Regions from separate parts of the Homo sapiens genome. Here region 1 is linked to region 2. The links come from fine-mapping of genetic effects on gene expression. Tissue or cell type: whole blood. Region 2 holds a variant in brackets; the other region holds the start of a gene. All regions are shown on one strand. Distances are from middle to middle.

Evidence for each region. PIP is the estimated chance that this variant, and not a neighbour inherited with it, causes the effect.
Region 1: STIMATE starts here. The variant in region 2 is fine-mapped to the expression of STIMATE in whole blood (TOPMed, PIP 0.92).

What each region holds. Positions count from the first base shown.
Region 1 is chr3:52,894,787-52,899,913 of GRCh38, forward strand. It overlaps STIMATE (STIM activating enhancer), which reads right to left and starts at 2,762. Exons shown (of 8, transcript NM_198563.5): 1 at 2,505-2,762. The coding sequence starts at 2,664. It overlaps STIMATE-MUSTN1 (STIMATE-MUSTN1 readthrough), which reads right to left and starts at 2,762. Exons shown (of 10, transcript NM_001198974.3): 1 at 2,505-2,762. The coding sequence starts at 2,664. RefSeq lists a silencer at 2,315-3,024.
Region 2 is chr3:52,948,710-52,953,941 of GRCh38, forward strand. The region is part of intron 3 of SFMBT1 (Scm like with four mbt domains 1); the gene reads right to left. Among named protein-coding and RNA genes, the nearest start is that of STIMATE-MUSTN1, 54 kb to the left of the region's middle. The variant A/G (reference allele first, on the strand shown) is at 2,566.

The DNA.
Region 1 (5,127 bases), 54 kb before region 2:
AGACAGGCAGTGAGCCCATTGCCTCGAGGGCCACGGGTACTCAGAAGGGAAAAGACTGTGATCTCAAAAACAGCCCCTCAAAGGACAACGGCTGTTTAAACTGCTCAGAACAGACTGGTTGGTATTTAAAATGTTTGAAGATAACAGAACTGAGGAAGGATGGAGTGGCCTCACCTTAACACACACTAAGACTTCCCTCCCTCAGGGCTGCGAGGGGGACCCTCGTCAGGGGAGCCTGGCCTTCAACAGATGCCCCTCCTGGCAGCTCCGCCAGACTGAGAAGGACGGAGGACTAATAGCCCAGGACAAAGCCAAATGGCTCGCAGATGTACTTCCTTAAGGCTACCTTGATCTCGTTCCTCTTCCACCTTAGAGATTTCTTCCTCTTCCCAGTAGTTCAAGAAGGAAAAGCCTCGCAGTTCTATTTCAACAGGACCAAGAAATCTGAGAGATAAGAAGGGCCCCACCCTGACTGCATCCCAGTCAGTGGGCTTCTTCTTGTCCAGCTCCCAGAGTACCATTGCCCTGGCCTGCTCTGTCTGCTTCTAGGTAGGGGGAGGAGGCTCTTGCTCTCACCTCCATTTCTGTGTCAGGGCAGACATAGCTCTAGCCTTTCCAGCTCTTCTCCCCATCACTCCTACCCACATCACCCCAGGACCCACCAGCCATTTCCACAAGCTCCGTCCACGTCAAGCCTCACAGTGAACAAGAGACTGCTTTCTAGTTCAATCTCTGCACACAGAAAGTACCAACCACAGTGGGATTTGCACATGTGCTCACGCTGAAGATTAAGTAAAGAAGTGAATATGTCCCTGAAGACTCCACTCAGAACACATTCAACCCGATACACTTCTCAGCTGTGAGCAACTCTGCCCTGTCATCATCACATTTCCTTCTCTGAATCACAAGTGTCAAACCCTAGGGGACAAGCCGGGCCATCAGCATCAATCAAACCTATGGAAACAGCCAGAGCTAGGCTAAGAAACCTCAGGTTAGGGAGCAAAAGAAAAATTTAACCTACACTTCCTTCAGAGAGAAAGGAAGGCTGTCTGGAGGACAGAGAAGTAGGAGGGGTATGAAGATCCACTCACCATGTCTTGAAAACACACACGTACAGTACATGCGCCCAAGTCAGCAGCGGATTTTGGCTAAGTTGTCACAAATTATTACTGTGGGAACAAGTGGGTATTTGTTTAGCAGAGAAAAAGCAAGGCAAGTTGGGACTAAAAAGGAAAGAAAAAGTGGCAAACATAGACAGTTGGGCACTTATAAGACTTATCAAGGACAGGCCACCAGAAGAACGCGGTATCCATGATCAGAGCCTCTTCAGGGTTACTTAAAGCCTGAGAGAATTCACTCAAAGAAACCCCAAGTTATAAACAAGCAAGGTGGCCACTCCAGCAACTGGACCCCACAAGACAAAGGCACACAGCTGCAAGATCCCTCCTGAGTACCCCAAAGCATACTTTCTGCAGGAACTCTCCACTCTGTCCACACAAGCACAGTGGGGAAGTTTTGAGAACAAGTCATTTTTGGAATTAATGACTCTGCACAGATAGTTATAACCTTTCCTTCCCCCTAAAACGCAGTCACAAGGGCACTCCTAGGCTTACATGTCGAGCAAAACTTCTTGTTACTTTAATAAGGGAAGGATGCACACGATGAAAAACAGAAGCCCCCCCCCACCCCCCATCAGCACACATGAGAACAGGGTGGGGGCTTCCTTCTCTATTCAGCCACTAAGGTGCCCAAGTTTAATGGAAAAGGAAACTTAAAATATAAAGAATAAAAGTGGAAAGGGAACAGCCAGGGGAAGCTATAGATGCGGCTTATTAGGAAAGCTTGGGACAGAGATGGAACAGGTGGGCCTGTTCCGGAAGAAACGAGAGGAAGGGGATCTGGGGAAGAAGGCAGACTGGGTGGGTCCTACCCTGACAAAAGGGAAACTAAAGCTGAGGAAGAAGGGCCACGGAGAGGGAGGCGGGTACTGGGAAACGGAAGGCATGGCCCTAACACTCCAGGTGTTGAGAGGGATGCAAAGTAGCAGGATTTAAATGTGAACGGAGAAGGCAGATCCTTGAAGAGTGAAGGGGCAGAAAAGAGCTCAGCATCGCACTGGGGATTGAGGGATGTGGGTTCTAAGCACGAAGAGCCCCTGAGAAGGGGCGGACAAGGGGATGTCACCCTTGGGGGTCATGATTCCAGGCTGGGAAGTGGGGTAACAATTCGAGATGGTAAGGTGGGAGGTAGGCGAGTTTTAGACTGGCGTCTCAAAAGACAGACGTTTAAGGTGGAAAGGGGAAGGGTCACTCCTGTCTGGAGGCCACAGCGAGTAGGTGAGGGGCTCGGGCTACCCCTAGTGCAGGAATACCCAGCCTGGGTTTGCGGGGGAGGAGCAATTCGGGTCCCAAGGCCTGAACTCTCCGCGCAGGAGGGGCCCCCAGGGGGGCCGGGCCGCGGCTGCCGCGCAGGGCCTCCGGAGGGTCGGGGGGTCCCAGACTCACGCATTAACGTGCTGAAGGCCACGACGCCGAGCAGCCCCTGCAGGAAGATGCCGAAGCTGTGCATGAGCGCGCCGCTCTCGCAGCGGCCCGCCCCGGACGCGACTGTGGAGGGCGGCCCGCCTGGCAGTCCCCGGCTCGCGTTCCCGGCGGGGCCCTGCATGACAGGCCTCGCGGGAGGGGCGCGAGGGCCCAGGGCCCGCCCGGCCTCGCTGCCTGCCGGCGCAGCGCCGCCAAACCCGCAGCCGGGATCCCAAGCCTGAGCCGGTACCTCCGCCCGGCCGCCGACTCCGCGCCGCGCGTAACCCGACGTCTGAGATCGCAGTGCCTGATTGGCGCAGCCAAGGTTGGGGCGGGCCTCGGCCGCGGCAGCTCTCCCCACCCGCCCCCGAGGGGCGGGGCTCCGGCCGGGCCACGGGGCGGGGTCGCGGGTCCCGCTCCCCTCTCCAACCCCGCCACGCCCGCAGGTAGACAGGCCAGGTGAGCCGGCCACCGCAGACCGGAATGAGAGCCTGGGAATCACGAGCTCCAGGTCCGGAGGTAGGAGCTGGGACGGCCTGTGGTCAAATTATTTTTCCCTCTAAGGAAAATCCCTATATCCTGGAGAAATTATCATCATTCCTGAATTCCACCCTCAGAGATCGTGATTCAGTAGTTCTGGGGTGGGTCCCAATAGTTTGCAGCCTGGATTATTCTGAAGCAAGTGAATAAGGAAAACAATCTGAGACTGAGTACAGGAGTCTTCCCTCCAACCCAGACATTTGAGTCTTTTTCCTACTTCCCTAGCTAAAGGCTTATCAAGGCCCCAAGTCTATTTTCTTTTTTCATAGACATAATTTAAATGGTCACCTGAATCCAATCACTTTCATTTGGAAATATACCAGGTTTCACACTGAAAACCTGACGTGCACATGTCCCACCTTATTCACTTGGGGAGCACAACTACCTTTAGAGTGTAAAAGACAAATGGTTGGTATTTTCCAGGCTCCAACATCCCCCTGCACACACACACTCCCATCTAACCCTTTCCAACTTCTCAGAACCTGTGCTCTGCCTTTAACAAGACCCTGAGTCCCCATTCTCTCACCCATTCTCCCAGCCCAATCTGGGCTCTCTCTGGATACCTTCTTGTTGGTGCTCTAGAGCCGCTGACCTTCCTGCTGCAGAATGTCAGTGAACACATGGTGTAAGTCCAGTTGACACTCACCCATTCTCCCAGCCCAATCTGGGCTCTCTCTGGATACCTTCTTGTTGGTGCTCTAGAGCCGCTGACCTTCCTGCTGCAGAATGTCAGTGAACACATGGTGTAAGTCCAGTTGACACTCACCCATTCTCCCAGCCCAATCTGGGCTCTCTCTGGATACCTTCTTGTTGGTGCTCTAGAGCCGCTGACCTTCCTGCTGCAGAATGTCAGTGAACATATGGTGTAAGTCCAGTTGATACTGAGCTACGTGTTTTCAACGGTAAATATCATCTCTAGGAAAAAGTTTCCTATTAAATAGCCCCCCAAATTCCAATTACCTAAGAGGGTTATATGCTAGCTAAAAGCTTTCTTGGTGAACAGGAATATTAACCTGATTAGAGAATAAAAATGCAATTCTCCAGCCTTCTCTTACATTTTCACACCTCTGTGCCTTTATGTAGCATTCTAGCTGCATGGATGCCATTCCCTTTTCCCTGCTCCATGAACTGCTCCTCATGTGTCAAAGCCTTTCTGACCTCCCTCTCCCTCTTGCTCCCACATTACCTAGTGTGTACTGTTCCACCAAAACTTTTCAGACTGCTAAATTTGACAGCTGTACACATGTCTCTCTCCCACAGCTAAGTGTGAGCCTCCTGAGGGCAGGAATTATTTTTATTTACCCTTCAATTCAAATTCAGTATGGTGCCTGGTACAGAGAACATGCGACAAAATGCTTAATTTAAATGGAATTTTAATTTATAAAATTTTAAACTCTCCACAAGTACTGGCCGTGGGCAAATACAGAAAATCAGATTAAAAAAATAAATGGATAAGGGAAAATTAAAATTGCATGACTGTCTTTTAGTCTAAGAGGGATCTTATGAGGATGCTCAACAGTTAACAGTACATGTTTAGAGAGAACCAAACAAGAGGCTACGTCTTAAAGCAGAATAGATTGTGGTTGGGCATAAGGAGACTATTGATTGCTTGAAGACACAGACAGCTCAAGGAAAATTGGACATAGAGCTGAAAAGTGATGTTTTTGACAAAGAATTGTTCTGCACATCCAGCTGTGGAGGAATCCTTAAGGCTCACAGAGGAACAAACAAGAAGCAGTCTTCAGAGATCAGGGGCGGAATCCCCAATGTCAGGAGCAAGGTTGCTGTGGGGAAATTCTACTCTTCCTATCTTTCCTGAACTGGAATTAAAAAGCACCTAAATCCAGAAGGTAAAGGATGAGACAGCAAGAGAGGGGGAAGAATTCCGGAGTTTTATTAAAGTAGGAAGGAACTTCTCATCTATTTGGAAATGATTCTCTGAGGTCCCGCTGGAAAGAGTTTTAAAAAATTTACTCTGGCCAAAATGCCTTCCTTGTTGTCAAATCAGCACAAAGTTAAGGTTAAACATAGCTTAAGACCTGTTCTCTTTAGTTTTCTCACAACC
Region 2 (5,232 bases):
GGCACAATCTCGGGTCACTGCAACCTCTGTCTCCTGGGCTCAAAGGATCCCCCCACCCCAGCCTCTGATGTAGCTAGGATTACAGGTGTGCTCCACCATGCCTGGCTAATTTTTAATTTTTTTTTTTTTTTTTTTTTGTAGAAAAGGTCTCACTATATTGCCCAGGCTGGTCTCGCATTCCTGGGCTCAAGCAATTCTCCCACCTTGGCTCCCAAAGTGCTGGGATTACAGGTGTGAGCCACTGCACCCAGCATCCTTGCAATTTTTTTTACATTTAATCCTAGACATTTTATGTTTCTGATGTTACTGCATTTTCATTTAGTTCCAAATATTTCAAAGTTTCCCGAGACCGCTTCTTTTATCCGTGTTATTCACAAGTGTGTTGTTTAATCTCTAAGTAACTAGGGACTTTCCAGCTATCTTTCTGTTATTGATTTCTAGTTTAATTTCACTGTGGTTTGAGAGCACACTGTATGATTTATATTATTTTAAATTTGTTAAGGTGTGCTTTATGGGCCTGGGTGTGGTCTATCTTTGTGAATGTTCCATGTGAGCTTGAGAAGAATGTATCTTCTGCTGTTGTTGAAGTAGTCTATAGATGTCCATTATATCCAGTTGATTGATGGTATTGCAGAGCTCAACAATGTCCTTACTAATTTTCTGCCTGCTGGATCTGTCCATTTTCGATAGGAGGGCGTTGAATTTCCCGACTAATAATATTGAATCCATTTGTTTCTCCATGCAGTTCTACCAGGTTTTGACTTGCGTATTTTTACATTCTGTTGTTAGATGCATACATTTTAAGGACTGTTACGTCTTCTTGAAGAACTGACCCCTTTATTATTATGTAATGTCCTTCTTTTTTTTTTTTTTTTTTTTTTTTTTTGAGACCGAGTTTCACTCTTGTTGCCCAAGCTGGAGTGCAGTGGCATGATCTCGGCTCACCGCAACCTCCGCCTCCTAGATTCAAGCGATTCTCCTGCCTGAGCCTTCCTGAGTAGCTGGGATTACAGGCATGCACCACCACGCCTGGCTAATTTTGTATTTTTAGTAGAAACAGGGTTTCTCCATGTTGGTCAGACTGGTCTTGAACTCCCGACCTCAAATGATGCACTCATCTCGGCCTCCCAAAGTGCTGGGATTACAGGCGTAATGTCCTAACATTCCTTGCTTTGAAGTCAGCTCTGTCTGACATTAATACAGCTAGGTCTTTTTTTTGTTAGTGTTAGCATGGTATATCTTTCTCCATCCATTTACTTTTAACCTATATGTCTCTTTATATTTAAAGTGCTTTTATTATAGACAACATATAGTTGGGTCATATTTTTTGATCCACTCTGATAATCTCCATCTTTTTAACAGTGCATTTAGACCACTGACATTCAAAGTGATTACTGATATAGTTGGATTAATATCTACCATATATGTTAGTGTTTTCTATTTGTTGCCTTCTTCTTTGTTTCCATTTTGTCTTTCACTCTTTATCTGCCTTCTGTGGTTTTAAACAGGCATTTTATATTATTCCACTTTGCCTTCTTAGCATATTATATTTCTTTTAACTGTTTTTAGTAGTTGCCCTAGAGTTTACAATATACATTTAAACTAATCCAAATCCAATTTGTGATTTTAAAAAACCCTTATAATAACAATTCTAATTCTGCCATTTCTTCCCCTGTATCATTGCTACCATTTATATATGTAAGCATGCCTTAGCATATATTTATACATAAGCATACATAATCAAATAAATTGTTGCTGTCATTACTTTTTTTGTTTGTGTTTTGAGATGGAGTCTCGCTCTGTTGCCCAGGCTGGAGTGCAATGGCGCAATCTCAGCTCACTGCAACCTCCGCCTCCCAGATTCAAGCAATTCTCCCGTCTCAGCCTCCCAAGCAGCTGGAATTACAGGCACCCACCATCATGCCTGTCTAATTTTTGTATTTTTGTAGAGACAAGGTTTCACCATGTCGGCCAGGCTGGTCTTGAACTCCTGACCTCAGGTGATCCACCCGCCATGGCCTCCCAAAGTGCTGGGATTACAGGCGTGAGCCACCGTGCCCGGCTGCTGTCATTATTTTGAATAAACTGTTATATGTTCCCTCAATAAAGAATAAGAAATATTAGGCCAGGCATGGTGGCTCATGGCATAATCCCAGCATTTTGGGAGGCCAAGGCAGGAGGTTCCCTTGAGGCAAGGAGTTCAAAACCAGCCTGGGCAACATAGCAAGACCCATCTCTACCAAAATATATATATATTTTTTTAAGTTAGTCAAGCATGGTGGTGGGTGTCTGTAGTCTCAGCTACTCTGGAGGCTGAGGCAGGAGGACTGCTTGAGCCTGAAGCTGCAGTGAGCTAGGATCACACCACTGCACTCCAGTCTGGGCAACAGAGCAAGACTCTTATCTTAAAAAAAAAAAAAAAAGAAAAATCCAAGGTTTTCTTTTACATTTTAAAATTCCTTCTCCAAAAAAAAAAAAAAAAACACACATTCCTTCTCTAACACTCTTTTTTCCTTCCTCAGAAACCATGCAAGCAAGGATAGAGAGGACTGAAATAGTTAAGGC[A/G]TTTAAAGCAAAAAGCCACTAATTTAGAGCTGTGTATCAAGCAAAATTATCCTTAAAAAGTACTAAAGATTTTCTCAGGCAAACAAAAATTAAGGGATTCTGTCACCAGTAGACCTGTCTTGCAAGAAATATTAAAAGAAATTCTTTTTTTTTTTTTTTGAGATGGCATTTTGCTCTTGTTGCCCAGGCTGGAGTGCAGTGGCATGATCTTGGCTCACTGCAACCTCCGCCTCTTGGGTTCAAGTGATTCTCCTGCCTCAGCCTCCTGAGTAGCTGGGATTACAGGTGCTTGCTACGACTGGCTAATTTTTGTATTTTTAGTAGAGAAGGGGTTTCATCATGTTGGCCAGGCTGGTCTCGAACTTCTGACCTCAGGTGATCTGGGCCGAATTAAATGAATAGGTTGGGCTATTTAACTGCAGCAGGAACATGCCCTTAAAGACACAGATTGCTCATGCTTTAGTTTGTGTCTAAAGAATGCCTTTAAGCGGTTTTCTGCCCTGGGCGGGCCAGGTGTTCCTTGCCCTCATTCCCATAAACCCACAACCTTCCAGCTTGGGCGTTAGGGCCATTATAGACATGTTACAGTGCTGCAGAGATTTTATTTATGGCCAGTTTTGGGGCCAGTTTATGGCCAGACTTTGAGGGGCTTGCTCCCAACAATGCAATATGAAATAAAATCCTTATCTGAAATATGTAATTCTCACCACTTTAAGAGAGATATAAATGAACAAAGAATAATCAAAAAGGGCAGCTAACATGACTGAGTTTTTACACACGGAAAACTAAAAATAGTGGGACTCGCTGTGCATGGTGGCTCACGCCTGTAATCCCAGCACTTTGGGAGGCTGAGGCGGGCGGATCACGAGGTCAGGAGATCGAGACCATCCTGGCTAACACGGTGAAACCCCATCTCTACTAAAAATACAAAAAATTGGCCGGGTGTGATGGCGGGCGCCTGCAGTCCCAGCTACTCGGGAGGCTGAGGCAGGAGAATGGCAGGACTCTTTAGCATATAAAGACAACAGCTAAAAGAATATGGTTTATATTCACAGACAACACTGACTGTGCATCAGTGTCTTCACAAATCCTAGAACAAAAGAAGTATGCCCTACTGAACATTGCTATGGGCTAAACTGTTCACCCCAAAATTTGTATGTTCAAACCCTAAGCTCCAGTATGACTGTTTGGATATAGGCCCTTTATGAAGGTTGTCTTAGTCCATCTGGGGTGCTACACCAAAATATCTTAGGCTGGAAAATGTATAAACAACAGAAATTTACTGCTCACAATTCTGGAGGCTGGAAAGTCCAAGATGAAGGCCCCAGGGGATTCAGAATCTGGTGAGGGTTCACTTTCTGCTTCAAAGATGGTGCCTTCTTGCTGTCTTCACATGGTGGAAGTTGAGCAAACAAGCTCTCTCAAGCCTCCTTTATAATGGTGCTAATCCCATTCATGAGAAAAAACCTTTATGGCCGAATCACCTCTCCAAGGCCCCACCTCTTCATACCAACGCAATGGGGATTAGGTTTCAACATATAAATTTTGGGAGGGCACAAACATTTAGAGGTCATAAGGATGGAGCCCTGATCTAACAGAATTGGTTCTTCTTCCTTTAAGAAGAGACACCACAGAACTCTTACTGTTTCTACCATGTGAAGACACAGCAAGGTGGCAACTATCTGCAAGCCAGAAAGAGGGCCCTCACCAGAAAGCAGCTACACACCTAGGCTTTCAGTCTCCATAACTGTGAGAAGATAAATGTCAGTTGTTTAAGCCACCTAGTCTATGATATTTTGTTATGGCAGCCCAAGCAGACTATGACAAATATGAAATAAGTAGTTTTAGAATTAATTATTCTGTGTGTTTTAAGAGGGAGTTTGAGTAAACAGGTTAAAAACTAGGTCTAGGATGGGCACAGTAGCTCACGCCTGTAATCCCAGCACTCTGGGAGGCCAAGGCAGGAAGATTGTTTAAGCCCAGGAGTTTAAGACTGGCCGACATGGTGAAACACCATCTCTACTAAAAATTAGCTGGGTGTGGTGGTGTACACCTGTAGTCCCAGTTACTTAAGAGGCTGAGGTGGGAGGGTCACCTGAGCCCAGGGGGTTGAGGCTGCAGTGAGCTATGATGGGCGATGGAGTGAGACACTGACCCCCTACCCCCCTCACCAAAAAAAAAACCTAGGTCTAGATATAAATTATAAACAAAATTTGGGGTACTTTCTTACATTCTAAAGTCATTACACAGGGCAAATATGTTGTCATTGACAAGGCATTAAACTGGGTTGTTAGGGCATAAAACCAGGCTGCACAGGCCACTAATATGACATGTAAATATGCATGTCATACTTATGTTCTGCTCAGTAAGAGTGACAGCAAATAATGCTATTGAAATTACTTTCAATGAATGCAACAAAGTAAATGTAACAAAGTACAATAATTTTTTTCAATTTATGACAAGGTTTTTTGACAAAAGTAAAGGAATATTCATAAATGGTCAAAAAGATAAGTCATGCATTGAGTAGCAGAAAATACACAAAACCAAAAAGGATTTTAGAATATGGCAAGTGTGACCAGGCACAGTGGCTCATGCCTGTAATCCCAGCACTTTGGGAGGCTGAGGTGGGAGGATCACGCGGTCAGGAGATCGAGACCATCCTGGCAA